4 separate regions of the Homo sapiens genome follow, and regions 2, 3 and 4 are each linked to region 1. Evidence: fine-mapped expression QTL. A gene starts in region 1. Each other region holds a variant in brackets. All regions are shown on one strand. Distances are between the middles of the regions.

Region 1 (7,722 bases):
GGGGGACTGGGCTGTCACCACTGCAGCTCCTCCAGGGCAAGCAGCAGACAGGACATGAGGATCAGGCCCCCGGACCAGCCCAGGAGAGGTCAGGCTCACGAGACGATCAGGCCTTGAGTCCAGCCCAGGAGAAGATCCGGCCACGGGGCCAGGAGAGGATCGAAGCTTTGTGATATCAGACAGCCCAGAACCCTAGATCCCTTGGCACTTAGGTGAAGAATTTCTTAAAGAATCAATCAAATGAAGACAAATTAAAGAACAAAGTAAACATTCTTGGATATTATGGGAGAAACAGCCCTATTTGAAGGTGGTATTCTAAGGAGAGAAATCAATCTAATGAAGGAAAGAAACTTGGAAGGACTTAGAGAAAGATGCCTCTGGACTCACACAAAACCTCCTAAGAGAAGACAGTTCCTGCTTACTCTAAGTCCAGAAGCAAGAACACACACTAAGGCAGGGGACAAAGACTGAAGAGGAACTTCCAGATCCCACAACGGGTCAGAGGCCTAAAGACCAACGGGAAACTAGCAGAGCACAGATGGCAGCTGACATCCAAAATGAGAAAGGACTATCGCTTACAAGAGACTTACAACGTGGCTACTCATTGTTTTGTTTTCATTTTTGTTTTTGTTTTTGAAGGGACAAGAAGGGAAATAAGCAATCAGTTTTCCTGATTTTTACAAAAAGGCATATAAGAAACGATAACCTATGCTTGCTTGTGGAAAGATTCTGAGATCACGGAATGAAAACCTGGGAATATGTCTTGGTCCTTCAGCCTGCTATAACAAAACACCTTGGACTGGGTAATTAATAAACAGCAGAAATGTATTGCTCACAGTTCTGGAGGCTGGGAAGCCCACGATCAAGGTGCTGGCAGATTTGGTATCTGGTAAGGACTGGTTGTCTCCTTCTCTGTGTCCTCACATGGTAGAAGGGGCCAACAAGCTCCTTTGGGCCTCTCTTGTAAGAGCACTAATCCCATTCATGCAGGCTCCACTCTCATGCCCTCATGACCCAATCACCTGCCAAAGGCCTCATCTCTTAATTCCATCATCTGGGGGTTAGGTTTCAACATATGAATTTTGTGGGGACGCAAACATTCAGACCACAGCAAAAGGGCAGTGGTAACACAGAAGCAGCCCAACTTTGAAACTGGCCTTCATCTGGTAAAAGTCAGTTCTTTTAATTACTCAACATGGGAATCTAGACTTATTCAGCCTCCCTGGGCCTGCCCTTGCTCAGGTGTTCAATGGCATTAACCAGGCCCAACAGTGGGTGTGGCGTGTCCACAGCTCTCAGGACTGTCCCTGCTCCTTCCTTGCCTTCTCAGCTGGGGAAAACTGATGCTGGTATCGCTAGCTGACGACCCCAGGGTGTCTGTGTCTGTTCTCACCATATTTCCAGCTCTGGTCCAAGCCTGTATCTTGCTCCTCTGTTTTTGGCAATTTCAATACCTGTAAGTACAGAGAGAAAAAGAAAATGGAGCAATTTCAGCACCTATACACTCAAAGACAGATGAAACAACCTGCTGCAGTAGGTAGGATAAAAAAAAAAACAAACAACAAACAAAAATGCTCTGTGCCTTCCCAGACGGGATGCAGTCAGGCTTCCTGTTGACAGCATGGCAGCAGAGGGCAGCATACACCTGTATACACCTGTATACACGAGTACGCCTGCACCTGCTTATACTTGCATATACCTGCTTATATCTGCAGGAAATGAGAAACAGGGAGGGCTTGCAGGTCTGACCCTTAGCACCATGGAGGAGGCGGAGGAAGAGGAAGAAGTCAGACCCTGGTAGTTTATTAACAAGGAAATGCCCAACACCATCTAGAGGAAAAAGGACTTAGAGGATTACGATCCAGCAGTGGTGCCACTGTCAGGCACCATCGGCTTACTGGTCTTGGGCAGCAGCTTCCAACAAGCACCTAGGGAGGAGAGGCTGGCAGAGTGGAAACTTAGTTTTGGCCAAGCCTTCTTCAGTTCAACTAGATTTGCTCTGAGCAAATGAGGTGAAAGCAGGTTGATATTTAAAAAATAAAAATAAAAAACCACTGGCTGCGGTGGCTCATGCCTGGAATCCCAGCACTTTGGGAGGCCAAGGCAGGTGGATCACTTGAGGTCAGGAGTTCGAGGCCAGCATGGCCACCATGGTGAAACCTTGTCTCTACTAAAAATACAGAAATTGGCCATGCATGGTGGCAGACGCCTGTAATCCCAGCTACTCAGGAGGCTGAGGCAGGAGAATCGCTTGAGCCCAGGAGGCAGAGACTGCAGTGAGCCAAGATGACACCACTGCACTCCAGCCAGGGCAACAGAGTGACAGTCCATGTCAAATAATAATAATCATAATAATAATCCAGGGCACATACTGATTAGATGCCATCTCTTGAAACATTCTGTTTCTATTGTTCCTGGCAAAGGCTCTTGCAGTCAGCAGACCAGTGCAAGACAAGCTGCAACCTGACTACACCTGCAGGCTTGCCCATTTAGGTGCAGGTGTAATAGTTTAACTTTTCATCCTCCACGGTGCGTCCATATGAACGAAAATTAGATGGTGACCTTTCAACAACCACACCCTATCTTCGAGGCCACCACGCCCGGCTGATTTTTGTATTTTTAGTAGAGACGGTGTTTCACCATGATGGCCAGGCTGGTCTTGAACTCCTGACCTCAGGTGACTTCCACCCCCTCCGGCCCCCCCAAAATGCTGGGATGACAGGCGTCTTTTTCTACTTCCCTTTCTGGGACGCCTTCTCCCACCAGGAAGGCCCACGGGGACCAGAGACCATCAATCTCTGGCCTCTGCACACCATCCCCGCCAGTGCGCAGCCATTCTGTTCAACTTAGATATCTCCGAGAATGGGCAGCTCAGTCCCAACCACGGGACCCCAGAGATATCAGAACACGGGTCCATCCCCAGGCCTCCCGCCTAAGCCGCCAGACTTTTCTTAACCGTGCCTTGTATATCGCTCGTCCCCGGGAACTATAAACACTCACTTCCCGACGAGGACCTGAGCACGTACCACTGGCGGGGTCATTGCCCATTATCTCACCTGATCCCATGCCCAGGGCCGAGAGTTTCCCAGGGCAAGGCTGTGAGCACGCCACGGGCAAGCCTGGGCCCAGCCACGGTGCCCGTGCGCCACCCCAAACCGGTGCCCCCGCCGCCCCAGACTCACTCTTTAAAATTCTTTGCAAATTGCCCTCGAAGTCCAGGGCCCACTGGTTGAGTGCGCAGGTGGCCACGGTCACCTTCCGGCCCATCCTGGCCGCAGTCGCTTGGGCAGGAGGCCAGCGGGGGACAGCAAGACCAGGGTCCCAGCGAGGTAGGCGGCTGGGACGCCGGACCTTCCGGGTTGCCCGGCCCCGCCCCCTCCCCGCCCATCCGTTGAGGCTCCGGCCAAGGAGGACTGCGGCGTCAGGCCCTGCCTACGGATCGCCCCGCCCCGTCTGAGGAGCTCACGACCGCGCCTGCGCAGCGAGGTGGCCTCAGCGTTCACGGCACCGCGAAGGGCCCCGCCCCCGCCCCGGCTCCACCCACGTCCCAGGCCCCGGCCCCGGCCCGGCCCTTGCGGGCAAACCCGTTCAGGTGCACAGGTGCAGGGGGCTCACCGCCCAGCTGCAGCACCCCTCTATTTTATCCCACACCGCCACCCCACATCCAGCTTAGCCATGTTTTATTTTAATACGGCATGAAACGTTCCAAATACACCAAAAGTGGAGAGTACGGTAGGAGCGCTCCATCGTGCCCGCGGGACAGCAGACGATAGCAATCGATTCTCCGTGCTGGGAATCCCGCCACCCTGGGCGGATGGCGCTGAATTCTTGGGAACCCTCTCCTGCCCCTTTCACTCCTGTACCACGTGTGTAAGTAGCTCAGGTAGCGCACTGTTTGCCTTTTCTGAAACTACAGGAACTGCACTTGAATGTGCTTCTGCAACTTGATTTTTTCCCCTGTAATATGAGATACGTTCTTTTAATTATTTTTCTGCAGTTTGGTATTCCATAGTGGCAGTAAAGCAGGTTTATTCAATAGCGGATGGGCATTGACGTTATTAGCAGCGTTTTGCCAACAGACGCACGCACACAGGCACTGCTGCAATTTCCTTTCCGGCAAGGTTTCCTTCGTGACCTCGTTCCGCCAGTTCCTGCAGCAGCTTTGCAGAGTAGTAGGGTTCGTGCTGTTTGACTTTACTAAATATTGCCAAGTCTCTTCTCCAGGGCGCTTGCACCGATTCACTACCAGCGGTTTCTCACTTTTTATTTTTTCACATTTCCTCTTTAGTCCACCCACGGTAGAATCCATTTTTCCCCCATATAAATAACTGCCTCATCATCGTTGCTTGAAGAGGCCATCCTTCCTTCTGTCATTCATGTTAGTTTAAAAACACACAATTCACAAATTTGGAAAAAGAGAAGGCTTTATTTCTTGTAAACGGTCGTAGCCTGCAAGGTGGCGGCCATCTGTCTGAGGCTGGGAATCTGTCTCCAGCCAAGGCCAGAGACAGGCACGTCCAAGGAGGAGGGGTTGGGGCAGGAGCGCTATGCTGAAGGGATTGGCTAAACATACATATTCAACAGGTAACAGGAGGAGCTATGAATATTCATGAAGGTGGTCCTGACACATGCCCTCTTATTGAGCAAAGCATGTAATATATGACCCATGTTCACTTTGGGGTGGAGACTTAACATTTACACATCTTACAATTAGGGCCTTTATGGCAAAACGTCTTTTCAGGACACAAAGGCATGCAGGTGCATCATCTCTCTCTATTAACGGGTCAGCTGGTCGGCATGGTCAGCTGGTCGGTGGTCTCTTATTAGGAGAAAGTCACTGAAATCAGTCTCTTGTCCAATCACAGCTGCTATGGCTGGTGAAACAGAGTCAGTTAGTTGGCACCTAGTGGAGCTGCAATTGTTTTAATATTCCCTATCCCAAGGCTAGTGTGTGTTTGGCTAATAGAGAAACAGAAAGCCTTGTGGCTCTTAGAATATAGTTTATTCTCTAAGTGTGGGTTGCCTGACTTACCCTCGCCTAGCATGGCTTTGGGTCCTGTTTATAATTTGGTATCTTATTGCCACAGAGTCCGTTCTGTCAGTCTTACGATCTCTGTTTTAACATGAATGCCGGCCAGTTGTGGTGTCCAAACTCTGAAACAGGGGGCTATTACCAGGCGCATCTGACCTCCCATCCCATCATGTCTGGGAATTCAGTGTTGAGGTTTTTCTGGTGTCCCCTTGGTCAGGAGAAGGTCCCTTTGGTCAATGGGGGGCTTAGGATTTTATTTTTACCTTATGTACATATACCCGTTTTCACATTTTGAATCACTTTTTTTCCTGTCTATAAAGTAGTGCTTGTTCATGACAATTTGGAAACTCCACAAAAGCACCAGAATGTTATACATGCTAACTTATTTAATCCTCACAGTAGTTTTCATGCTTCTGAAATCCACACGATCTGCTCAAATTATCTCCTGCCAACAATGGCTGATGCCAGGCCTGGGCAGAGAAGGGGAGGATCCTTGAACATCTGGTTGTCCCAGAAAATAAGTAAGTACTCAAAGGATGGTAGATACATGTCATATGAAAAAAGAAGCCAATTTGAAGGGGCTCCCGTTAGCTAAATACAGGACAATACAGTAAGGATCATAACTCGGTCAGCTAAATCCATTAGGGCATACTGATAAAAAATAAATCAAAGAGGAAATCCCTACAGAAGAATGCTTGCTAATAAATAATTTATTAATAAATGTTGAGGGAATGATAAAATTAGAAAATTAACACTTTGTCCCAAGAAATAAGGGATTCAGGCAAGATTCCTCATTAAATGCTAGTTCACTGGGTGAAAGGTCATTTGGGAACAGCATATTTACAGTCTCAAAGTATCACTGCACCAATTACTCATTAATAACAAAAGGAAAAATGGAGACTTCTGGCAGAAACCACGGAGCCCCACTATCAATCATGGAGCACAGTGATATGTTGTCTTAAAAAAGAAAATTTTAGGACTCTTGAAATTTATTAGGTCAACTTGGGCAACAGAGCAAGATCCTGTCTTTAAATAAATAAATAAAAATAAATAAATTTATTATGTCAAGAGGGAAGTTAAGTCCTAGAAACTGGGTCACATAGCATGTTTGTAATTTTGTCTTTTAGATTATAGGCTGTTTTTCTTTATCATTCATGTTTTATAAATGACTAGGAGAGACCACAGACCAGGCCTGCTCCCCTTTTAATTACTGATCTTTATTATAGATTGTCTCTTATTATCCCGTACTTAGACCAGACTCCTACATCTTCAGTGTAAAATGTTAAATATACCTTCCACCTAAAAAAGACCACCTCAGCTGGTCAGATTATAACTTTATGCATAAAAAGATGTTAAAATTCTGTTAAACTTCCCTAAAATTTGTCTACATAAATGATCCCAAACATCTACAGTTCAAAATACTGATTTCCATTCTTTAAAATCTGTGCTTCCCAGGCAGCCTGTCCTCAAACTTTATACACTTAAATAAACTCTCTTTAAGCTAAATTCTGACCTGTTTGGTTATTTCAGGTTGACAGCCTTCTAACAAGATAAAACATGCTCTATGTAGTATATTATCCTGCCAAAAAAAGTGCATAGCCTGAATGCACAGTGTGGCTCCCTGATTAGATCCTGGGGTTTAAAAAAGGGCTGTAGGGCAGAGCTTCACACCTGTAGTCCCAGCACTGTAGGAGGCCACAGTGGGTGGATCGCTTGAGCCCAGGAGTTCGAGACCAGCTTGGGGAACATAGTGAGACCCCCCCCCCCACCCATCTCTACCAAAAAAAAAATAGCGTGTGGTGGTGTGCTCTTGTAGTCCCAGCTACTCAGGAGGGTGAGGGAAGAGAATCGCTTGAGCCCAGCAGTTCAAGGCTGCAGTGAGCTGTGATCGTGCCACTACACTCCAGCCTGTGTGACAGAGACCCCCGTCTTAACAAAGCAAAACAAAACAACAATAACAAAAGGGCTGTAAAGGGCATTATTGGGACAACCGCGGGAAACTGGAGATGGAAAATAGATAACAGCATTGAACTGATGTGGTCATTGTATTTTGGTAATATAGGAGGTTCTTGTTCTTAAGGAGTTGGATACCGAAGTATTTGGGAGGGGGGTATCACGGTATCTGCAGCTAATGGTGGGGGCTGAGTGGGGAGGAAAAAAGAAAAATACACATATATAAACACAGAGGGAGAGAAATGAAACGTGGCCAGCTGCTCACCCCTGCTGAACCTAGGAATCTGCGTGCTCACTTTACGTTCAACTTGTTTGTATGCTGAACATTTTTCAAAACAAAAAGGTGCAGGGAAAAAAGAAAACATGATGTCTCTCTGAGGGCCACAGAGACGTGGCAACCAGATCGCTCTGACAGTAAGGCCTGTTACCCGAGCTGTTGGGTGTGGGGTCAGCAGACACCTTCAGCTGCCCCCTCCTCCAGGGCTGCCTCGCCCCAGGTCATGCCCTCGCAACGTGGCCCGTGCGTCCGGCTCGCACTGTGGCTCAGCTTCTCCCTTTGCCCAGTCCTGCTGCTCCCTCCCCTCCCGTCCTCGCACAGGTGTGCCCCCCTAATAAGCAGGCCACCCAGACTCCATCTCGGGTCACTTTGGCGGTCTCCCAGCGGCGAGCCTTCCCTGACACCCATGTGTTTACCTGATCGTTTATGGAGGATCCTCTTCGCCCCGGGACGTGAGCCC
Region 2 (7,722 bases), 23 kb before region 1:
GTGCATAATGGGTACAGTTTCTTTTTGGGGTAATGAAAATGCGCTAAGATTGTGGCTGCATAACTCCATGAGTACATGAAAAACCACTGAATCAGGTGCTTAAATGGATACATTGGGTGGTATGGCAAATACAACTTAATAAAACTGCTATGAAAAAAAGGCTGGGCACGGTAGTTCACGCCTGTAATTCCAACACTTTGGGAGGCCGAGGCAAGAGGATTGCTTTAGCCCAGGAGTTCAAGACCATCCTAGGCAACATAGTGAGACTCTGTCTCTAAAAAAAAAAAAAAATTAAAAAAAATCAAAAATTAGTTGGGCATGGTGGTGTGTGTCTGTTGTCTCAGCTACTCAGGAGGCTGAGGTGGGAGGATCACTTGAGCCCCAGAGGTCCAGGCTGCGGTGAGCTGTGATGGTACCACTGCACTCAAGCCTGGGCGATGGAATGAGACCCTGTCTCAATCAATCAACAGCAGAAGAGTCCGCTCTGTTATGAGCATCACACTTCTTCAATGTTTGCAAAAATCACTGTCTCATGACAGCTGCTCAGTTGGACATCCTATTTGTGACGATGTCCTGCAGAAACGCAGAGCTCCAGGTTACCAGCAGCAGGACCTCGGGCTGCAGGAGGGGCGTTACTTGCATCCCAGGGTCTCAGACACAGGCTCACTTGTGCCTTGGACCTTGCCTCCAACTGCCGAAGTGGGGACCAGCCTCGGCTGCACACTGTGTGCCTGTTCCTACCACGCTTGCCACCCCTCACCTTGAGGCCTTCCTGGGCTCCAAGGCTGCTTGGGTCTTCCTTGTGTGGCAGCCCCTAGCACGCTGACTGTCTCGTCAGCCTCTCTGCCTGCCTGTCCCCAGCTCACCCCAGCTCAGGGCCTGGCCCAAGCAGAGGATGACGGGGAACAGATGGAAGCAGGTTCTGTCTGCGGCACCAGCCCCTTTCCACGCTCGGGAAGTCCGGAACTTCCCTGTCAGACTTTTCAGGCACTGCACCCTCACGGCCTCCACCAGGCCCGCACGAATGGGGCCACTTTCCACGTCTTTGATGAGCATCCCACACAGGTGTCTACTGGAGCACTCACCGCCAGGTTTCGAGATGAAATCTCCGCCCTGTAGCTCCGGACGTCCTCCAGATCCAGCGTGGCCGTCAGGACTTCCTGGAGAAGGAAATTTCAAAGAGAACCCGTGATTTCCCGTTTGTTCAACTCCCACGTGTAATTTGGCCACTGTCAAAGGTGTTGTCACACCTTCTAAAGCAGGGGCTGAGACCCTGGATTCCTGGAGGCCCAGGGATGGGGCAGATGACATTGAGGCGGACCCATAGCCCTTCCCCGTCACTGTTGCCACCGGAACCTCCACTTCATTCAGACACTTGCCAGTGACCCACTAATCACAGCACAAGACACCACCCTGTCAATAAGACACACCCCGTCAGTAAGACACACCCCTGTCAGTAAGACACCCCTGTCAGTAAGACACCCCCATGTCAGTAAGACACCCCCATGTCAGTAAGACACACCCCTGTCAGTAAGACACCCCAGTGTCAGTAAGCCTCTGCCAGCGACTTCTGGGAACACCCCTCTCATCAAAAAGACACGCAAGGAGCCAAGGCCACTTTGCTGCCTCTGCATGTGGCTGTGTGAAGATGGGATGGCTGGAGCTGGGGCAAACATCCCATGCCCACGAGGAGAGGCAATCTGAGACAGGCCAACACAGAGGAGGGCGGAGCTGGAGAAGCAACCTGAGACTGAGGCCAACACAAAGGAGGATGGAGCTGGGGGAGGGCAGAGGCGGAGCCGCAGCCCCGGCATCCACACCAGGGTCTTGGCCTGGACGTGCTGCCTGTGTCACAGGAGGTGACACTGCCCTGCCTTTGAACCCGGCTATGGTAGGGGTTCTGCCAATTGCGGTATATGCAGAAATGAGGTTTTAACTCATAGGGGTTATTCCTTCATGAAAAAATATCTTTATCAAATTGTGTTCCTGAGTGTTGCCTTGCTAAACACGAGTGTGGGACAGCGGGAACAGCACCTGCACCACTGCGGCGGTTCACAGGATGGCCGTGGCCACCTTGCGCGCCCCTTGCTCCTACCGCCGTAACAGGGGGCCATACCTGGCCGGAGATGCCCATGAAGACAAGGAGACCGATTCACGCATCCTGTGGTTCTCTGGCTGCTTCCCAAAGTGACAGCACCCTGGCCACCAAGCTTCCATGCAGAAAGCCACGGTCCGTGTGAAGCCATAAAACAATGGAGATGAGGGAAGGCGAGGATCGTTCCATGAGAAGGTGGCTCCATCCCACTCTCCCCGAGGCTAGGTTAACAGCCTGCCGCACGGCGGCCTGACTCCAGGCACACGACAAGCCGGAAAGCCCAGGGGATTAGGAAGACCCTGAGAAACGCGGGCCCGACGGGGGTGATCGGCAGGTCTGTTGCTTGAGCAGGAGGCAGAAGGGGTGACTCTGAAATGATTCCACGTGTCACAAGACTTCTGTTGACCATTTCAGGTGCACCACGGAGGACCTGGTGGAGGGCAGTGGCCCGAGCCTGAGGACAGCGCGGCCACTCTGAATACAGCAGGCCTGTGGCCACAGCCTACGACGGAGCTCTCAGGCAACATCAGGAACTCTAGAGACGTGTAAGGCAACGGCTCCCGGATTCTAATGCACGAAACAACTGCCTGGTGCTCACTAAATATACAGACCCCCGAGGACTCCGATTTGGTGGCTTGATGTGGGGCCGGGAACCTGCGGGGGTCCTGGGGCAGGTGATTGATTGCCAACACACCTGCCAATCAACACGACCACCAATGTGCCTGTGGCTCTGACGTGAACGGGGAGAGGACCACACTTCCCATCAGCAGGAACTTAATCCTTCTCTTCAAAGCCCTTCCAGCTCTGTCGCGGTTAATGATGAAGCGCAAGGAGGCCTCTGGGGACACTGTCATGTGGAAAGCAGGGCCTGGAGTCGAGACGGCCACACCCTTGCCTGCCCCCGTGCAAGAAACCCCTGAAAAGACCGTGGAATTCTTGTTCAGGGTGAAGTTCACTTGGTCCACTATGAAACTGGTTTGGTTTTGTAACCGCCTCCGTGCTGACCACACCTATGCTGTGCAGAAAGCACCAGACAGAATCATGAGGATGGGAACGCAGCGGGAGCAAAGCAATGAACTGCTCAGACAGCCTCGCAGAGTCGGCGACGCCAGGACACAAGCTCGCCCTGCTCCTGCAAAGCCAGCTGCAGAACTCGCCTCCGGTGCTACCGCCTGCCTCGGTGAATCCGCTGCTTTAATGCCCATTCCCAACAAGAGCAGAGTGGAAGGCCGTCGGGTCCAAAGACGAGTCAGGCAATGCTGTGTGTGGGAGGCAGTGCTGTGGACCCGCGTGTGGTCTGAGCCCGAGAGTGGAGACGCTCCCACCCACGCCGGCTTGGGGCAGAACTAAAAGTTACTTTTTGTTGTATTTGTGCACTTGGGATTTGTTTCCATTTGTGGCAATAATAGCCCATTTTTTCTTGTTTGCTTCAAAAACAGAAAGAGAGGCCGGGTGCGGTGGCTCACACCTGTAATCCCAGCACTTTGGGAGGCTGAGGTGCGTGGATTGCCTGAGCTCAGGAGTTTGCGACCAGCCGGGGCAACACAGTGAAACCCTGTCTCTACTAAGTAAATACAAAAAAATTAGCTGGGCATGGCAGCATGGGTCTGTAGTCCCAGCTACTTGGGAGGCTGAGGCAGAATTGCTTTAACATGGGGCGGAGGTTGCAGCGAGCCAAGATTGCGCCACTGCACTCCAGCCTGGGTGACAGAGCAAGACTCCATCTCAAAAACAAACAAACAACCGAAAGGGAGAGTGGCCCAAACCTCCCCAAGGACTTTCCAACTGTGGTCCCTTCTCTGTGGAGGAAGTTTGCCTCCATGGCGATAACGATTACCTG[G/A]GAAGCCTTGCCCTGTGCTAATGCGCATCTTTAGCCGCAGAATGTGCAGAGCTTTCATCAGCTTCCCAAAGGAATCTGGGGCCCCAACAAGGTCCTGAACCCCATTCCAAGCGGCAGCTCAGTTGCTGGTGAGGAATGTGCCAAGCAGGGTTCTTAGCTTTGTTCTCTGTCATCTCCTTCCTCGGAGCACCCACATATCTGTGTCGCTTCGGGATAGCAATGGCGCTTCCGACCTGTAACTCACAGCTCCCCCAGGGCCCTCCCTCACGCAGCTGGCCGCTGTGTGCTCAGAGATCCCCACAGAACAAAGCCTCCCTGACCAGAGTGTCCTGGGGTCTCCACTTCTGCTTCCCAGGACTCAGGGGCAGCGTGGCATAAGGCCTCAGATGAGTATATGTGGCCTCAACACCCAAGGAAGACAGACAGGGCCTTGAACGGCCTCACCATACATGGGATCCCTGGACCTGTCTCAGGGGCCATGGAGCCTGCTAATTTCAAAGGAGTGGCTTTGGTTCCCTGCCAGCCCTCGGAATTCAAACAAACCAACGACACCCACCCGCAGGGGCCAGGCGGCACCCATCCTCTCATCACCACAGAGCCCGCCTCCCACAGCGGGGGCCGTCCCCTCTGTTCCTGAGCACACTCCCACCTGGCCCTGCGTGGCACGGAGCCCTCCTCCCGCACTGTGGGAACGCAGGACTCGTAAGCTGCCCTCAACCTCATCCGTCCACTACTATGTGCTGTGTGTCGGGGTTCAGCTGTCTCCAGACCCGAGGGCGGGAGGTCCCCCCTCACCAACCAGGTAAATTTGAGGCCATCAGAGCAGGCGGGACCCCTGGGGGCTTCTCCACAGGGGCCCTCACTAAGCACCCGGCTTACAGGGGAGAGCCAGGAGCAGGCGGGACCCCCGGGGGCTTCTCCACAGGGGCCCTCACTAAGCGCCCGGCTTACAGGGGAGAGCCAGGAGCAGGCGGGACCCCCGGGGGCTTCTCCACAGGGGCCCTCACTAAGCACCCGGCTTACAGGGGAGAGCCAGGAGCTCGGTCTCTGCACAGAGAACCCTCCCCCAGGCATGTCCAGGCCCGCTCATTACCACGTCATCCAGAGAAAACTGGGATCCTTGAGCAAAGACGCTTCCGTTCATGGCAATCATGGCACAGCCGTCGTAGTACAGGCGGTCCCCGTCACAACCCTTCTGGTTGGCCAGCAAGTAAATCCCACCGTTCTGAAAAAGGAGGACCCCATAGCGGAGTGGTCAGCTGTGTCCACCACCCTCACCTGCCACCTGCCCAAGTACAGGAACCTCCGCCGAGTCCCGCTAGGTCATCCTGAGTGGTCCCACCACCGCAGAGATAACGCATATGTGTGGGGAAGCACAGACCTGTGAAGCTGCGGCGAGCCCCGCCTTGCTAGGTGCCAGGCTCTACACAAAACATTTGTTTTTCCTTCACAACAACCCTACAAGGCAGACCCCATCACCTCCCTCAGGCATGATGAGGTTCAGACAAGCCAAAGAAAGCTCTGCATGATGAAGCCAAGACTCAAACGCGGCTCAGCTAGACCCACATCTGCCCCGTGAAGGATGAACCAGCACTGCCCCTCGCACGTCTCACTGCCCAACAGCAGGAGCAGCAAACGTACGGGTGTTCCCTACGCCTCACCATGATGCCAACGAACAAGGAGCACGTTCCGGTTCCTGGTCATGGCAGAGAGGGTGACAGGGTTGCTTCATAGGGTGGCTGCGTGGGTGAGATGGGCTGTGCCGGCGAAGCCCTGGAGGGCAGCAGGGCACACTTGTTGAGTCCAGGCCATAATTACTAGCCTGGAACATCCATTGTGTGTGGGCCCAGCCCTGCGATGGGCACTGAGGATGCAGGAGTTCTTGAGATACAGTGTCTGCCCTGTGGCGCACGCTCCCTGGCCCAGCCCCTACCTTGCTGGTGACCATAGTCACGAGATCCACCCTGGTGTTGGCTTTGCGCAGCACTTGGTGGCTGCCCGAGGCGTTGGTGATGATCTCCACGCCATCCAGGCCCATGTCGATGTGCGGGCTGCAGGCAGAGGCAGGTGAAGAGAACAGGCCACCAGACTCCTCCAAACCAGCCTCCCTGGCAGCCCCTTGCACTCTCCCACGGCAGCTCCCAGCCCACGGCCACGGCCACGGCCACGGCCCCAGGACGTCTGCAGTCCCAGGTCCTCCCAGCTGGCCCATATGAGGTGGGCGATCAGACAGCACAGGGGCATGGGGCTGACCTGTGGGGTGTCCAGAGCTCCTCACAGATCTCACTTCCAATGCAGGTGTCCCATGTCACCAGCACCGCATCTCCGAAGGGTACGGTTTCCTGCAGTCGGAAGAGAAGAGTGCATGAGATTCACTAGCCATGCCCTGTCTGGGCCACGCACTACCTAGGGCCACGGACATCCTGCAGCCACAAGAGCTGGAGTTGGCTCTGGGCTCTCGCACATTCCGAAGAGGTGGGTGCCCTGCGGCTGCGCATGGGACACCGGGTGGTGCCAGGCAGAGACGCCCTTAGGAGCCTATGTGTGGAAGAAGGGGACGCCTGTACTCTGAGCAGCCAAGGGGCAGAATGTCACGGACATCGATGGGGCTGCCAATTGGGGCCAGCAGCTTCTGAAGCGACCCTGTCCTGTGATCACACTGAAGCAGCTGCTGCCCTGTGCTGATGAAGCTAGGCCCCCACTCCCAGCCACAAGGCAGTGGCTGAGAGGGGACACCAGGGTGCCTTCCCTTAGAATTCAAAATTGAGAGTAGGGCATTTTGCTGTTGGTCTAGATAACACTTAAATGTCAGAACATAGCCCCTGGGGATGGAGAAGGCTGTCTTCTGCCACAAGGAGGAAATGAAGAGGAGGAAGCCAGTGTGAGTGGGGGAAGGGAGGAAAAGCAGCCCCAAGGCAAGGAGGAGCCACCCTGGCTGCTGTCTGGCCACGCAGCCCCCCTCACTATAGGAACCTGCCTCCTTTGTCTGTTTCAGACCTGTGAGCACTGTGGTGCCTTCCATTACCTGGATCCCAAAGCGTTCCCGCCCCACCTGGTCCACTGTTGGCCGAGAACAGCGACAACCGACTGAAAAACGGGCTCCACACCCAGGGACTCACCTGCTTTGTCAGGTCCTGTATCATCCGAGGCAGAAAGTACTCCTCTGTGTGCCTGGAGAGGAAAACACCGAGGAGCTGAGGATGAGCATCTCAGGACAAATGAGGAATGGCGGCTACATTTAAACAAAACTCAAACTGAACCCTCCGAACTGATGAACTGGCAAAGGAACTGCCAAGCGTTCCCCCCAATGCAATAAACAATCGCATTCAGGTAAAAAGAAAAGAGTATGAAGGTGGCTTGAGGAGACTATGTGACATGGTGGTGGGCTGGGCTCTCCGAGCTTCGGGCTGCCTCAGTTTCCCCACACGCTCATGTTCATCTTTACTGAGAGATGTGTCACAGGGGATTTGCTGAGAACTGGCCACGTTGCCTCATGGAGAAATCCAGGTGGAATTCCTGATCGCTGTTACTGAATCAGAAAAATCGTGTGGCATTAACCCGAAACACAATGACAAACCAGTATCATCCCTGGAATAAAATGATGCTCTCAATTCGAGAAATCAGGAGGAGGGTTTAATACCAACTTTAGTGCAAGGTGTCCCAAGAAGCTCCACCAAGAGGCGGAATCTTCAAAACAGACAGTTCACGCATTTGACTTCCAATAGGCTGTTACGAGATGCACCACTCAGATCTGCAAGGAACTCCGTTTCCTTTTTGCTTTCTTAGA
Region 3 (7,722 bases), 130 kb before region 1:
CTGCGATGGGGGTCCTAAGAGCCAGGGAGGCAAGAGGGGCTGGCTCTTACTCCTTGCATGGCGGGGGGCGCCTCGCCCCCCTGCGATGGGGGTCCTAAGAGCCAGGGGGGCAAGAGGGGCTGGCTTTTACGCCTCGCATCGCGGGGGGCACCTCGCCCCCTGCGATGGGGGTCCTAAGAGCCAGGGGGACAGGCGGGGCTGGCTCTTATGCCCCGCATCGCGGGGGGCGCCTCGCCCCCCTGTGATGGGGGTCCTAAGAGCCAGGGAGGCAAGCGGGCTGGCTCTTACTCCCCGCATCGCGGGGGGCGCCTTGCCCTCCTGCGATGGGGGTCCTAAGAGCCAGGGGGGCAAGAGGCCTGCCCTCAAGTCCTTATAGTATACTAATCCATTACAAGCACTTCCCTTTAGGACCCACCTCACAACACTCTTGCATTGGGGATGATGTTTCCAACACATGAATGTTGGGGGACACATGCAGACCATGGCATAGAGAAATCTCTCTTTCCCACCTGGAGTAAAACTGAGCAGGGAACAAAAGTGGGCAACTGGAAGAAGCAGCCTAAGAGGAGTGAACACTGTAAATGGGGAAGAGAGAAAACAACAGCAGAGAGATTTGTGGGATTTTCAGAAATGCTTGAGTAGAGGAAGAGATTCCCTGCAAACACCAAAATGAGATTATATTATTGTTATTTGGACCGTAAAGGAAAAAAAAATTGGCTGAGCATGGTGGCTTATGCCTGTAATCCCAACACTTTGGAAGACCAAGGCAGGAAGATCACTGCAGACAAGGAGTTTGAGACCAGCCAGGGCAACTTGGCAAGACCCCATCTCTACAAAAAATTTAAAAATTAGCTGGGTATGATGACACACATCTATAGTCCCAGCTACTCAGGAGGCTAAGGAAGGAGAATTCTTTAAGCCCAGGAGTTAGAGGCTGCAGTGAGCTATGATCATGCCACTGCACTCCAGGCTGGGTGTCAGAGCAAGACCTTGTCTCAAAAAAAGAAAAAAAAAAAAAAAAAAAGGATCTCCACTGATACAATTTGGATGTCCCCTCCAACTCTCACATTGGTGGGGCGGGATAGGAGATGTTTGAATTATGGGGGCGGATCCCTCATGAATGGTTTAGCGCTATCCCCTTGGTGATGAGTGCGTTCACTCAGATCTGGTTGTTCACAAGTGTGTGGCCCCTCCTCACCCCTTGCTCCCATTCTCACCATGTGGCGTGCCTGCTCCTGCTTCACCTTCCACCATGAGGAAAAGCTCCCTGAGGGCTTGCCCAGAAGCCGAGCGGAGATGGGTGCAATGCTTGTGCAGCCTGCAGAACCATGGCCATTCTAACCTCTTTCCTTTATAAATTACCCAGCCTCAAGTATTTCTTTACACAATGCAAAGAACGGTCTAACACACCCAGAAAACTGAGACTGGCATGAGTAAAATATTACTTAATATAATATGCATGAATATTTATATTAATATTATGCTTGCAGAAATCTACCAAATCCATCTCCAGGATACATGATAATAAAGAATTTGTTTTCTTCTTTACTTGTGTTTCCTATAAAGACCATGGGTGAATTTTGAAATCTAAAAACATAAAATTAATATTATCTGGAGGGATAGACAGGGAAGATGAGAGCATGTGGGCAGAGGCTGTTGCCCATTGGTCACATGTGGTCAGCAGAGAGCGGGTGACCAGCACCCTGGAACTTTGCGGGAAGCACCAGACCAGCCTGGAGCTGAGGTTTTAATTGTAGGGGCCAAAACAAATGGGGAAGAAGACAAATTTAGAAAACAAAGAAAGTAGATGCTCAACTGAGCCAGGAGGAAGTCACTAGCAAAGAGGAAAAAAATAGAGCTCTGGAAAAATAGTGTAAACAGTCACAAGGAAAGGACCCTGCGTCCTCCCTGACCTCTGGACAGGTATATAAAGAGCCCAGGCTCAGGGGGCTCCACACCTGCACCTCCCTCTCACCTGCTCCTCTACCTGCTCTACTCTCAATCCGCCAGAATCATGGGCTGCTGTGGCTGTTCTGGAGGCTGTGGCTCTGGCTGTGGGGGCTGTGGCTCCGGCAGTGGGGGCTGTGGCTCTGGCTGTGGGGGCTGTGGCTCCAGCTGCTGTGTGCCCATTTGCTGCTGCAAGCCTGTGTGCTGCTGTGTGCCAGCCTGTTCCTGCTCCAGCTGTGGCTCCTGTGGGGGCTCCAAAGGGGGCTGTGGCTCTTGTGGGAGCTCCAAGGGTGGGTGTGGTTCTTGTGGCTGCTCCCAGTCCAACTGCTGTAAGCCCTGCTGCTCCTCCTCAGGCTGTGGGTCATTCTGCTGCCAGTCCAGCTGCTCCAAACCCTGCTGCTGCCAATCCAGCTGCTGCCAGTCCAGCTGCTGCAAGCCCTGCTGCTGCCAATCCAGCTGCTGCCAGTCTAGCTGCTTCAAGCCCTGCTGCTGCCAGTCCAGCTGCTGTGTCCCCGTGTGCTGCCAGTGTAAGATCTGAGGCTCTGGACCCAGACCTTCAGGTTTCTCCTCTTTGGTGAAAGCATTTCTTATGGTTTCTCTGAATCAGTTCATCCCACACATCATCCTGAGGCACCTGCACCTGCTCTAGCTCATCATCCATGCATGCACCTCTTTCCATGGCTCGGCTCTCCTCTAGGCCCTGCCTTCAGCTTCCTCACTCCGGAAACATGTGTTTCCTTGATGCAGGAGGTGTTCTTCCCTGGACGCCATGGTGTTCCCTGCACTTGGGTGTGGACCATCTTCTTCTTCTCCCTGGGCTGACTGAGATGCTAGGTCTGACCCCACAAGGCCAGGCCGACATTCCTGAGTGATCACTAAGAACCAGTTTCTCAACCACCACTGGGATTCTGGGTCCTCCTGGGCTGCTGCCTGTTCTCCTGTGACCCACCTGTGAGCAAGAAGGTCTCCTTCCTTCCTGTTGTCTCCATCTATTTAAAAAAAAAATGAATGAATTTCCTTGCAATAAAGCCTCTCATGTCTGTAAACCAACTGTACACTTGGTGCAATTCTGTCTAACCCCTTTCCTGTGTGGTGACTGATTCTGTGTTCTAATTTGTCAGCTAAGCTGGGAAATGCCTGCCAGCAGGCTTGGTGCATTCAAAAAGAACCACGAAGTTCACTTCTGCCTTCCACGCGGCCTCAAATATCTTCACTCTCTCTGCTTGCAGAAGAAGAGGGCTCAGCCTGGGGAGGATTCGGTATTCAATGCCCACCCTAGAGGCGCAGAGGGGCAGGCGGGCCCTGAGTCCTGATGACCAGCCAAGCAGGGCTTTGCACAAGACCCATGGCTTCCAGCTTCCCGCTCTCCTCTGGGGCCTTGGAAGGACCCAGGCAGGGCAAGGTCGGAGGAGGGAGGAGTGAAGCACCGCTGAGCTCCAACGCACTCTGATTCAAACACTCAATTAGCCTTTTACAATTATGAGGTCAACGGCTTTCCATAACTAAAGGTAACCAGGAAGTTACAGAATGGCCCAAGGTGTCCTCGGAGCTCAGTCTCCCGGCAGGAAAGGAGAGTTCCTGGGAAGTGACACATTTGGGGACCCTGAGCCAAGTCCATCTGTTTCATGGTGATGCGCCACCACGCTGAGCCTGTTCTCTGACCAGTGTCACAGGCAAGGCTTTAGAAATCACGCACTGGGGAGGAGGGGACAAGAGTGATCTGAGGACGATTTCCAGCCAAGCGAACCCGGAGGGAAAAGGTGGAGGGAAGACAACACACAGGGAGTGCTGGTGAGAAATGAGCTCCCACAGAACACTCACAGATCTAAGCGACTGCTGATACTGCCGGGGAAGAGCAGAGTGGGAATTTCCAAGACAAATTTCTGAGAGAAAAGAGATGCAATGTAAGGAAAAATGAAATAATCTAGAAATAAAGGCTTAGATTATTTCAACCACATTTAGGAGAGGGAATAAAAGTGTGTCAAAGGTGCATCTTGCTAGGGGACATGGCTATTGATAGTTTCACAACGCTAAAAGGAAATGCTGCTTAAGACAGTTCACTCAAAAATCCAAACTGGGAAACTCCAGAAGGTGGCAGCAGACATGAACGCAGAGTTCATTACATCTGAGCCCTGTACATTCCCACAACCCACAGGACACCAAGCAACTAGGTAACAAAACCAAAAATGCATGCTGGAGATTTATAACAAAACCAGGTAAGCCAGGCATGGTGGTGCAAACCTGCAGCCCCAGCTACTCAGGAGGCTGAGGCAAGAGGATGGCTTGAGCCTGGGAGTTTGAGGCTGCAGTGACTTTTGATCATGCCTCTGAACTCCTGGGCAACATAACATGAGACTTTGTCTCAATAAACCAAAAACAAAAAACAAACAACAACAACAAAACAAAAACAAACAAAAAAACACCAAACAAAAAATGAACAAGTGAGCCTCAAAACACAAG[A/C]CTGTCAGGACAAGTTTCCAAGAGCCACAGTTCCCCAGAGTATCAGTGTCTGTGTAGGAGAAAGCAAAGAAACATCTAACAGAGCTGAAAACAGGGGAACCTCGAAAGAGCCAACAGGTGCGTGCCGGAAAACACAGCGTGAATTTTGAATTCGGCTCCTGAAATGGGGAAGGTTTTCCTCCCTCTAGTGGTGAGTGGGTGCAAGGGCCCTTGGTAAGTCCCTACAGGCAATGGAAGAAAGCTGGGAAGCCTGCCATGAAACAGATCACAGTGGTAGCGTACTGTTCCCAAAGGAGCTAATGAACAATGAAAGGAAATGATACCAGACATAAAAGAGGCTGCATGTGGTGGCTCATGTCTGTCATCCCTGCAATTTGGGAGGCCAAGGCAGGAGGATCACTTGAGACCAGGAGATCAAATCCAGCCTGGACAATAAAGAGAGATCTTATCTTTAACTTAAAAAAAATTTATTTTAAGTACCTGGGCATGGGGACACCCACCTGTAGTCTTGTTTATTCAGGCAGATTGCTTGAGACCACGGGATGGGGATTGCAGTGACCTGTGACTGCGCCACTGCACTTCATACTGGGCAACAGTCTCAGTGCAGTTGCTGCAAACTCTGCTGCTGCTCCTCAGGCTGTGGATCAACCTGCTCCCAGTCCAGCTGCTGCAAGCCCTGCTGCTCCCAGTCCAGCTGCTGTGTCCCTATTTGCTGTCAGTACAAGATCTGATCTTTAACACACAGTCATATTGGCTCTCATCCACATGCTCCAGACAGAGACCAATGTATCAGCATAAAGCCGTGAATCACAGCCCTGGGGTGACTGTTTTCTAGAATGCTGGAGCAGCAGTATTTGGAACAGGAAGAGCCTTCACAGGCCCTGTGCGGGGCACAGCCCCTCACCACCCTCGTCTCACCATGCGCGGCTGTCATGGTGCATGAGACCGCTCCTCTTCCTCTCCTGCACCACCTCTCTCTACCCTGATGTTCTAAACCCTCTCCTCCCAGGCACAGTCCCAGGAAAGCTCCTGGTGCCGTTTGTCTATTGGGCTCTGCAAATTCTGAGCCTTGACCTTGTGATTCCTTTGAATAAGCGATCGCTTCCCCTCACGAGTCCTGTTTTCAGTGTGGCCCTTTTCCTGCTGTTCCTTTTGAATGAGCCTTTCAACCTCCCTCCTGGCCCTAAAGCACCCCCTTTCTTTGCGCTTCCTGATCACATCAGGCTGTTGGGTGATCCACTCCTACATGCGGCACAGTTTGCTAAGCACCACTGCATGCACCAGGAGCGCGAGAAGAACGCAGCGTGGCGCCTGGCCTTGGGGTGCTTGGACGGGAGCTGGGGAGCCCCTACGATAGGGTGGAGGGGTAACTGAGGTCCTCCACAGCCAGGTGGCGAGAAGGCCGAGCGGGGCAGATGTGAGAGGGTCTGAGACGCAGCATGACAGGGAAGAGACCAGCCAACTCTAAAAATAGCTTTGGGAGTAGAATTTCAAGCATGGTGACTGCTTGGATGGACGAAGGGCTGGGAGAGGCATAGAGAGAAAGGAGGAGGGAAGGGGGGCTCCCTTGTTCCTGAGCCAGTGCAGAGTCCTCCAGGACCCACTTCTTTCTGTGTCCTGCCCACCCTGTGACCTGGCCAGCTGCACGTTTTCCCAGCAGGCTTGAAGCCACGCTGTGCTGTGAACATTCCCAGGCCCTGAACACTGAGAAAGGTGTTCACGTTGATGCCCAAAACAGTGAAATCTCAAACACGTGGCTAAACATGCAGAAGCTATCTCAGACCCTGAGGCTAACCCCTCACAGCCCCATGTGAGCTCCACGGCCTGGGCCCTCGCTGCAGACATGCCTGCGTGTCCCCCTTCTCTCAGTTGTGACTGTGGCTTGGACCTACCTACGTCTGCCCCCTCTGGCGTTGTGGCCTTGGCTGGCATCCTCTGAAAAAGATGAAGGGAGGGAAAGGGACACAGCCCTCCTGACCTCCCCTGACAAATGCTCTTGACTGACCCCCTCTCTGGAGGGGCTGGAGCTGCCCCTGCAGTGACTCCCCTGCCACAGCTTTTGGGGTGACTCCAGCAGCAGGACTGGCCAGACAGAACAGTAAGGGAATTCAAAAGAGACCCACCTTATTGGTCACATAATTTTGCATAAATCCCACAGGATAATATTAGCATTGGTTTAAGTGGTTCACTGATTGTTTTAAAGGGATTTGTATTTTGAAGTCTTAATAAAACAAGCAGAGAAAATCCATGCGACCCCTTGATTCTGCCAAAAAACCACCTGCTTCTTGGAAGAGGCCAGACCCCGTTCAGAGCCACCGTTTACCAATCAGAGAAGTAGAGAGGCTCGCTCAGCAGAGATGCGTGTCTCCTCTTCAAGCTGTGAGAGTCTGAAGCCCCCAGACACTAGAGGAGTGTGTGGAGGGTGTATGGGGGGTTGTTTCTGTTTGAATGTGTGTATGTGAGTGTATGAGTGTGTGTGTGAGAGAATGCGTGTATGAGTATGCATATGACTGTGTGTGTGTGCAAATATGCATGAGGATTTGCATGAGTGTGTGAGTGCACATGAGTGTATGAGCAGGTGCATGAGTGTGTCAGTGTGTGTGTGAGTGTGAGAGTATGTGTATGAGTGTGTGAGTGCATGTGAGCGTATGAGTCGGTGTAGGGGTGTGTCAGTGTGTGTGTGTGAGTATGAGAGTGTGTATGAATGTGTGAATGCATGTGAGTGTACGAGTTGGTGTAGGAGTGTGTGAGTGAGTGCGAGAATGTGTATATGAGTGTGTGAATGCATGTGAGTCAGTGTAGAGGTGTGTGAGTGTGTGTGAGTGTGAGAATGTGTGTATGAGTGTGTGAGTGTGAGAATGTGTGTATGAGTGTGTGAATCCATGTGAGTGTACGAGTCAGTGTAGGGGTGTGTGAGTGTGTGAGTGTGAGAGAGTGTGTATGCGCTTGCACAGAGTGGCTCCCATCACCAGCCCCGGTAGCTGGAACCCCCTGCGGTCATCACTGGAAGTCCTGACCAGAGCTGCCTGCCCTCCAGGCTCTGATGATCCTGCCAAGTCCTGCGGGTCCTCCTTGAAGAGCGGCAGCCTGAAGCCCCGACCCCTGCAGACCCAAGGCTGTCTGGGGACGGGGTGGTGCACCGCGTCCTCCTGTCCAGGGCCAGGCGCAGCGAACATGCCCATTAAACACAGATGCCCCTCACCCGCCGCCGGGGCCTGGGGCACGGGCACGTGCGTGTAGGCTTTTCAGGAACAGGATTCACGGCTTCTATCACCAGGTTCTGGAACGGGTCTCCCACGCACGTTGACCTGGGCC
Region 4 (7,722 bases), 80 kb before region 1:
TCTGGCCTTATTCTTCTTTTTTAATCATCGCGTAGTGTTTCGTGTAAAAATACTCTCCACGGCGTTCCTCCATTCTCCTGTTCATAGATATTTGAATTGTTCGCAGTTTGGGGCGATGATAAATAACACATAATCATGCCTTCCAGTCCTTCCGTATTCATGTTTTTGGTTTTAATTTTTTGGTTAAATATTGAGGACTGGCCTTGCTAGACCATAGAGTAGTGTATGCTTAACTTTCTAAGAAACAGACAGCTTTCCAAACGCTCAAGCTGCTTTCCCTTCTCCTCAGCAATGCCTGAGAGCGTCCGCTGCCCCAGGCCTGTCAGTACCGCCATTGGGTTTTCAAATGTGAGGCGTCGGATGGGTGTAAAATTGCCTCTCATGTGGATTTTGATCTGCGTTTCTCTGATGACTAATGTTTGTGAGGGTCTTTTCTTGCACTTACTGGTCATTTTCACATCTTTCTTGTTAAAAGGTTTTGTTAAAATTGTTTGCCCACTTTATTGTAGGGTTATTGAGTTGTTGGAACTCTTCATAAATTCAATATCAAGAATATATGAATGAAATGCTTTGCCATATGTATGTATATATATATATATTTACACATGTATTTTATATACATGCATATATGTGTGAAGGGGGCCAGCCCCTCCACACCTGTGGGTATTTCTCATCAGGTGGGACGACAGACTGAGAAAAGAAATAAGACACAGAGACAAAGTATAGAGAAAGAAAAGTGGGCCCAGGGGACCGGCACTCAGTATACGGAGGACCTGTGCCGGCACAGGCCTCTGAGTTCCCTCAGTATTTATTGATTACTATTTTCACTATCTCAGCGAGAGGAATGAGGCAGGAGAGCAGGGTGATAGTGGGGAGAAGGTCAGCAAGAAAACATGTGAGCAAAGCAATCCGTGTCACAATTAAGTTCAAGGGGAGGTACTATGCCTGGATGTGCACGTAGGCCAGATTTATGCTTCTCTCCACCCAAACATCTCAGTGGAGTAAAGAATAACAGAGCAGCATTGCTGCCGACATGTCTCGCCTCCTGCCACAGGGGGGTTTTTCTGTTATCTCAGAATAGAACAAATGTACAATCGGGTTTTACACTGAGACATTCAGTTCCCAGGGACAGGCAGGAGACAGAGGCCTTCCTCTTATCTCAACTGCAAGTGGCCTTCCTCTTTTACTAATCCTCCTCAGCACAGACCCTTCATGGGTGTCGGGCTGGGGGACGGTCTTTCCCATCCCACGAGGCCATATCTCAGGCTATCACCTGGGGGGAAACCTTGGACCATACCCAGGTTTGCAGGGCAGAGGTCCCTGCGGCTTTCAGCAGTGCATTGTGCCCCTGGTTACTCGAGACTGGAGAATGGCGATGACTTTTACCAAGCATACTGCCTGTAAACATTTTGTTAACAAGGCACGTCCTGCACAGCCCTAGATCTCTTAAACCTTGATTCCATACAACACATGTTTTTGTGAGCTCAAGGTTGGGGCAAAGTTACAGATTAACAGGATCTCAGGGCAAAGCAATTGTTCAGGGTACAGGTCAAAATGGAGTTTCTGATGTCTTCGTTTTCTACATAGACACAGTAACAGTCTGATCTCTCTTTCTTTTCCCTACATATGTGTATATATAATATATATGTATGTATAATACATAATATATAATTTTTCAGTATTTGATTTGCCTTATTATTATCTTATTTTTATAGGGAAACGTTTTTGATTTTGAAGTGCAATTTAACATTTGTTTCTTTGACAGCTAGTGCTTTCTTGTGACCTTTTTGAAAACTCTCTTTCCTAGCTTTTCCTCTAGAAGCATTAGAGTTTTTGTTTCTATATTTAGTTCTATGCTGGATCTCAAGCTAATTTTTGTGTGTAATGTGAGGTAGGAGTTGAGATCCATTTTTTCACATTTTCATCCAATTGTTTCAGCAGCATTTGATAAAAAGACTATCGTGGCCAGGCGCAGTGGCTCACGCCTGTAATCCAGGCACTTTGGGAGGCCGACGAGGTAAGATAACCTGAGGTAAGGAGTTCAACACCAGCCTGGCCAACGTGGCGAAACTCCATCTCTACTAAAAATACAAAAATTAGCTGGGCGTGGTGGTGGGCGCCTGTAATCGTAGCTACTCAGGAGGCTGAGGCAGGAGAATCGCTTGAACCCAGGAGGCAGAGGTTGCAGTGAGCCAAGATTGTGGCACTGCACTCCAGCCTGGGCGACAAAGTGAGACTCCGTCTCAAAACAAACAAACAAACAAAGGTGGTTTGCCTGTAATCCCAGCACTTTGGGAGGCCTATATGGGCAGATCACCTGAGGTCATGAGTTCAAGACCAGCCTGACCAACATAGAGAAACCCTGTCTCTACTAAAAATGCAAAATTAGGTGGGTGTGGTGGCACAGGCCTGTAATCCCAGCTACTCGGGAAGCTGAGGCAGGAGAATTGCTTGGACCCGGGAAGTGGAGGTTGCAGTGAGCCGAGATCATCCCATTGCACTCCAGCCTGGGCAACAAGAGCAAAATTCCATCTGAAAAATGAATAAATAAATGACTATATAAACAAATAAATAAACCAACCATCCTTATCCCACTGAAATCGCTGATGTTTTTAATGAGAATCAGCCGACACTATGGCGAGTTTGTTCCTGTGTCCTGCTCCGCAGGTCTGTATGCTGCTTCCTAATGCAAACACAGCGTCACTGTGACATTATGGGAGATTTTGAAGTCAAGTATTGTGAGACTTCAACCTCATTCTTCTTTTTAAAGATTGTTTTCTTTTTTTCAATTCCTTTGCTTTTCCAACGAAATTTTAGAACCAACTTGATCATCTCAACAACAAAAACATAAATGGATATGGAGGCACATAGATGATAGATGGATGGATAGATAGATAGAGAGATACACAGATGATTCTGAAGAATTGAACTATGTAATTATGGAGGCTGAGCAGCTCCACAATCTGCTGTCTGTAAGCTGAAGGTGTACCCTGCTTGTTTCCAGACTGAGTCTGGTTCCCCGATCACTCTGACCAAGATTCATGCTAAGATGCTCCCTCAGTGACCACTCCACACATAGCCAGCTTCTCCAGGCCCCATACAGGGTCTCCCTTCACTCATTATCCAAGATTCCTTGGGTTGGGGGGACCATCTGGTCTTGAAAATATTCACTAGCGGCAGTGGTGCATGCCTGTAGTACCAGCTACTCGAGAGACTGAGGCAGGAGGATCCTTTGAGCCTAGGAGTTGAAGACTAGCCTGGGCAACACAGTGAGACTCTACCTCTATTGAAAAAAAAAAAAGAAAAGAAAAGAGGAAGAAGAAGGAAAAAAAGAAAATAATCACAAACAAGTAAACAAGCTGACCATGTCTTTTATTTATTTATTTATTTATTTAAGACAGGGTCTCACTCTGTCACCCGGGCGGGAGTATAGTGGTGCAATCATAACTCACTGTAGCCTCAACTTCCCAGGCTCAAGAGATTCTTCCACCTCAGCCTCCCCATTAGCTGGGACTGCAGGTGTGCACCACCACAGCTAATTTTTTTTATTTTTCTGTAGAAAAAAAATAAAAAAATTATTAGCCCAGCTAATAATTTAGCCCAGCTAATTATTTTATTTTTCTGTAGAGACGGGGTCTTGCTATGTCACCCAGGCTGGTCTTGAACTCCTGAGCTAAAGTGTTCCTTCTTCCTTAACCTCCCAAAATACTGGGCTTACAGGAGTAAGCCACCATGCCAAGCCCAAGCTGACCACTTCTAAAAGTGTCCTCCACTCAAGCAGCTCACTTACTTAAGAATATCGCTTATTCCCACACCCCTGCCTCCCAAATCTCTTCCCTGTCTTTGCAGAACCAGCTCTCTTAAATACATTTTCCACAGTCATATTTACAGTGCAAATTTTAAGTAAAATTGCAATGCTTGCAAAAAAGAAAGAAATGTAGGATTCTGTGATGTCACTGAAAGTGACATTGGAGAACATCTGCTGGGAGCCAGGCAAGGCCACTGCAGTGAAGATCAGGCGGTTCACCCTAAAAGAGAAGCTGGCCAAGGAGACAAGATAGGGACTTCCCAATGGGGTGAGTTGACCTCGAAGAGAGGCGTTCGTGAAGGATGAGAAGGAGCTCAGTTGGTTTTGCAACGTGATTCTGTAACGTCATTCTGTAATGTCTTCAGCGTCATTCTGTAACGGCCAACTGTGAAATGAAGGATGTTGCAACAGGCAATCCTATGATTTTATCAAAAAAATGCATAAAATATCCAACACGTGATTTTCTCTTTGTTGATTTCATGGAGAGTTACAACTATGTCCTAAATCTTGCTAACAATTATGTGACATCTGTTCATTTTTAAGGAAGGTTTTGTGGGTTTTTTTGTTGTTTGTTTGTTTGTTTGTTTTTTTGACAGAGTCTCGCTGTGTCGCCAGGCTGGAGTTCAGTGGCAGGATCTTGGCTCACTGCAACCACTGCCTTCCAGGTTCAAGCAATTCTCCTGCCTCAGCCTTCCAAGTAGCTGGGACTACAGATGCGTGCTACCCCGCCCGGCTAGTTTTTGTATTTTTAGTATAGATGAGGTTTCACCATGTTGACCAGGATGATCTTGATCTTTTGACCT[C/T]GTGATCCACCCGCCCCAGCCTCCCAAAGTGCTGGGATTACAGGCATGAGCCACCGCGCCTGGCCGGTTTGGGGTTTCTTTTGATTTCTCTTCTACCCCCCACACCACAAGCACAGACAGCATTGGTTCTGCTGGGCCTATTTCCAACAATGGCCGGCAGCAGGCCTTTCTTTGGTGCCTGTTACTGTGATAGTGAGGCTATCTTTAATCTGCAGGTCACTTGGTCCAGCCTGGGCCAAAGACTTCCCCCTCTTCCCTGGAGAAACCTCTTTATTACACAGCAAGACACAAATTTACCCACGGGAGCCACAGGCCAAGCAAAGAGAACGCCTGGTGAGCCACAGTGGGGAGAAGTTTCTGGCGTCTTCTGGATCCACTGACCCCACAGCAGCCCCTCCTGCCCCACTGGCAAGGCTGGAGGCAGCCACCAACTCCCTACCTGTGGTGTGGTCCGCCCTCATGGAATCTCATCAGAGTGTACCCTTAAAGACGGTTCTTTTCATTTCTGCTTTAATTGTCCTTTGCTGCTCAAAGGCCTTCTAAGTCTTATCATTTACCAGGCAGAACTGAGAACTCTGTAGCTCCCCAGGTTTCTCCAGGCTTTCTAGAACTTTCCTCCTGGCTGAAACCAGCCGGTTCTTTCGAGCTCACCCTGTTCTTGTAATGCTTTGATAAATGCAGCCACAATGACCCACGCGGGAGTGGCACTGTGTTTTCTGAACTCTTCCCTCAGGGATACACGATCTAGGACAGTCTTACCAAACACATAATAACTACCTTTCTCGCCTCCGATAGCTTTCCTTTCCACCCACCCCCTGACCAATAAACCAAGGCCACAATGCTATGTTTGTGTTCTGGTAGGTTTCTGGGTCAACCAGGATAGACCAATTACGCTGCTCACACGCGCCACCCCCACGTTTCAGTGACTTCACACGACACAGGCTTACTTCTTGTTCACATCGCAGGTCACTGCACATCAGCTGGTGACTCTGCTCTGTACTTCATCACTCTGGGACTCAGTCGGAAGCAGCAGCCACTGCTTGGAACGTTAGTGGTCATGGTGGGGGAAGAAAGAGAGAATGCAGAAAACTGCAGCAGGTGCTTCAAACTTCTTCCCACTGACGCAAGCAAATCACATGGCCACACCTGACTTAGAGAGGGCTCATGAAAGGGCCACCCTATTACCTGCCATCCAACCTGTTCCCAGAAGGAGAGGAGAACCAGGATGCCTACAAATAGCCCTAATTATCACCCCATTCTGTGCTCTGCGTGGCAATGCTGCCAGTCCTATAGATAGGTTTTTGGCTAAATGAGCTTAAGTTTTTCATTTTTACTCTAACATATGCATTTAAGGCTATAAATTTTCCACTGATTTGGCTGCATGCAGTAAATTTGATAGCCCCATTATTTCATTAGGGGTTACAAAATGATGAGTTTCTAATTCTATGATTTCTTCTTTATTTATAAACTGGAATACTTCCTCTAATTTTGTTACCATAAGATAGAGTTTGTCTGTCAGAGATAGAATAAGTGCCTGATTATTTTCCTTTACTTAGTCATCTTTAAAATAATGAACTGATTCCTAGAATCCTCTAAAGGCAACTAAGTTTTACAGTTTGCATAGGATCTGTATTATTATTTTTTGTGTATGATTACTCACTCCTAGTTTAAACATATTTGATGTGTATCAGTCCATTTAAGAAATTGGTGTTCAGGTTGTCCCAAGTCTGTCTACAGAGAGTTTCTCTAGGTTTGCCTCTCACCATTTTTTTTTTCTTTTTTCTGAGACAGAGTTTTGTTCTTGCTGCTCAGGCGGGAGTGCAATGGCGCCACCTCAGCTCACTGCAATCTTTGCCTCCCAGGTTCAAAGGGTTCTCCTGCCTCAGCCTCCCATGTAGCTGGGATTACAGGCATGCACCACCACACCCAGCTAATTTTTTGTATTTAGTAGAGACAGGGTTTCACCATGTTGGTCAGGCTGGTCTCGAACTCCTGACCTCAAGTGATCCACTCGCCTCAGCAGCCATGCACCACCACACCTGGCTAATTTTTTGTATTTAGTAGAGACAGGGTTTCACCATGTTGGTCAGGTTGGTCTCGAACTCCTGACCTCAAGTGATCCACTCGCCTCAGCCTCCCAAAATGCTGGGATTACAGGCATGAGCCACCTTGCCCGGCTGACTCTTTAGTTCTTTTGATGTGACTGCATTAGTCTTAGTTATCATCTCTGCTTTCTGGGATAACAAGATGTTCTAGATTTGTCTTGTTCGCTTCCAGCCCATTCACCAGAGAAGCCAGGTTCCAGGTAGATACAATAAATAGCATTTGAAGATAACAAACAGTCTTGGTGCTAGGAGTGTTCACTGCTACAGGATGGCTCATTATTTCTAAGTCTTCCAATGGAGGAGGAAACTATTTTTATTTGGATAAAAAACATCATGATTTCATATCGATATATCTAATTCAAATTCAGGATGACAAGGTTTTTACTTAACCTCATCAGTTCCACACCAAAAATTCTAGTTCTGATACCAACCTAATTATGCATTTGCTTTTTCCATACAGCATTCACAGCAGAATAACGACACCACTGCTGCCACCATGACTACTAAAAATAGCTTAGGAATTTTATTTTTGTGTTCTTTCTATGCTTAGGACATATCCCACCAATAAATTGCTGTGTTTCCAAATAACTTGAAATAATTCAACTCTATTAATATTGCCTTTTTTTTTTTTTGACGGAGTCTTGCTCTGTCGCCCAGAATGGAGTGCAGTGGCGCGACCTCGACTCATCACAACCTCCCCCTCCCAGGTTGAAGCCATTCTCCTCCCTCAGCCTCCGAAGTAGCCAGGATTACAGACACGTGCCACCACACTCAGCTAATTTTTATATTTTTAGTAGAGACAGGGTTTCACCATGTTGGCCAGTCAGGTCGCAAACTCCTAACCTCAAGTGATCCGCCTGCCTCGGCCTCCCAAAGTGCTGGGATTATAGGCGTGAGCCACTACGCCCGGCCCTTTCAAAATTCTTAAAAAGCAATATTGGCTTGGTGCTAGGAGTGTTTATTTACAGAGGCAACAGGCTGTGTAACAACAAAGACAATCAGAGTA

What was found.
Region 2: its variant is fine-mapped to the expression of NADSYN1 in whole blood (TOPMed, PIP above 0.99).
Region 3: its variant is fine-mapped to the expression of NADSYN1 in sun-exposed skin (GTEx, PIP 0.94).
Region 4: its variant is fine-mapped to the expression of NADSYN1 in monocytes after LPS (Quach 2016, PIP 0.92).

What each region holds. Positions count from the first base shown.
Region 1 is chr11:71,448,842-71,456,563 of GRCh38, reverse strand. NADSYN1 (NAD synthetase 1) reads right to left here and starts at 3,361. Exons shown (of 21, transcript NM_018161.5): 1 at 3,183-3,361; 2 at 1,394-1,454. The coding sequence starts at 3,267. DHCR7-DT (DHCR7 divergent transcript) reads right to left here. Exons shown (of 2, transcript NR_186309.1): 1 at 7,679-7,722; 2 at 4,407-4,874. It also overlaps a transcript of DHCR7 not described here. RefSeq lists enhancers at 2,204-2,703, 2,704-3,205, 4,443-4,522, 4,643-4,692, 7,638-7,722 and a silencer at 3,263-3,632.
Region 2 is chr11:71,471,833-71,479,554 of GRCh38, reverse strand. NADSYN1 (NAD synthetase 1) reads right to left here. Exons shown (of 21, transcript NM_018161.5): 6 at 7,055-7,106; 7 at 6,189-6,277; 8 at 5,869-5,986; 9 at 5,029-5,160; 10 at 1,086-1,160. It overlaps MIR6754 (microRNA 6754), which reads right to left and starts at 6,052; the gene lies at 5,987-6,052. RefSeq lists enhancers at 1,139-1,718, 1,719-2,298, 2,299-2,878, 5,414-6,320, 6,321-7,228. The variant G/A (reference allele first, on the strand shown) is at 3,936.
Region 3 is chr11:71,577,130-71,584,851 of GRCh38, reverse strand. KRTAP5-11 (keratin associated protein 5-11) reads left to right here and starts at 1,977. Exons shown (of 1, transcript NM_001005405.3): 1 at 1,977-2,997. The coding sequence starts at 2,015. The coding sequence ends at 2,485. It also overlaps the pseudogene KRTAP5-14P. RefSeq lists enhancers at 4,475-4,769, 5,192-5,703, 5,704-6,217. The variant A/C (reference allele first, on the strand shown) is at 4,408.
Region 4 is chr11:71,528,606-71,536,327 of GRCh38, reverse strand. It overlaps KRTAP5-7 (keratin associated protein 5-7), which reads right to left. Exons shown (of 1, transcript NM_001012503.2): 1 at 7,659-7,722. Among named protein-coding and RNA genes, the nearest start is that of KRTAP5-7, 5.2 kb to the right of the region's middle. RefSeq lists an enhancer at 903-962. The variant C/T (reference allele first, on the strand shown) is at 4,612.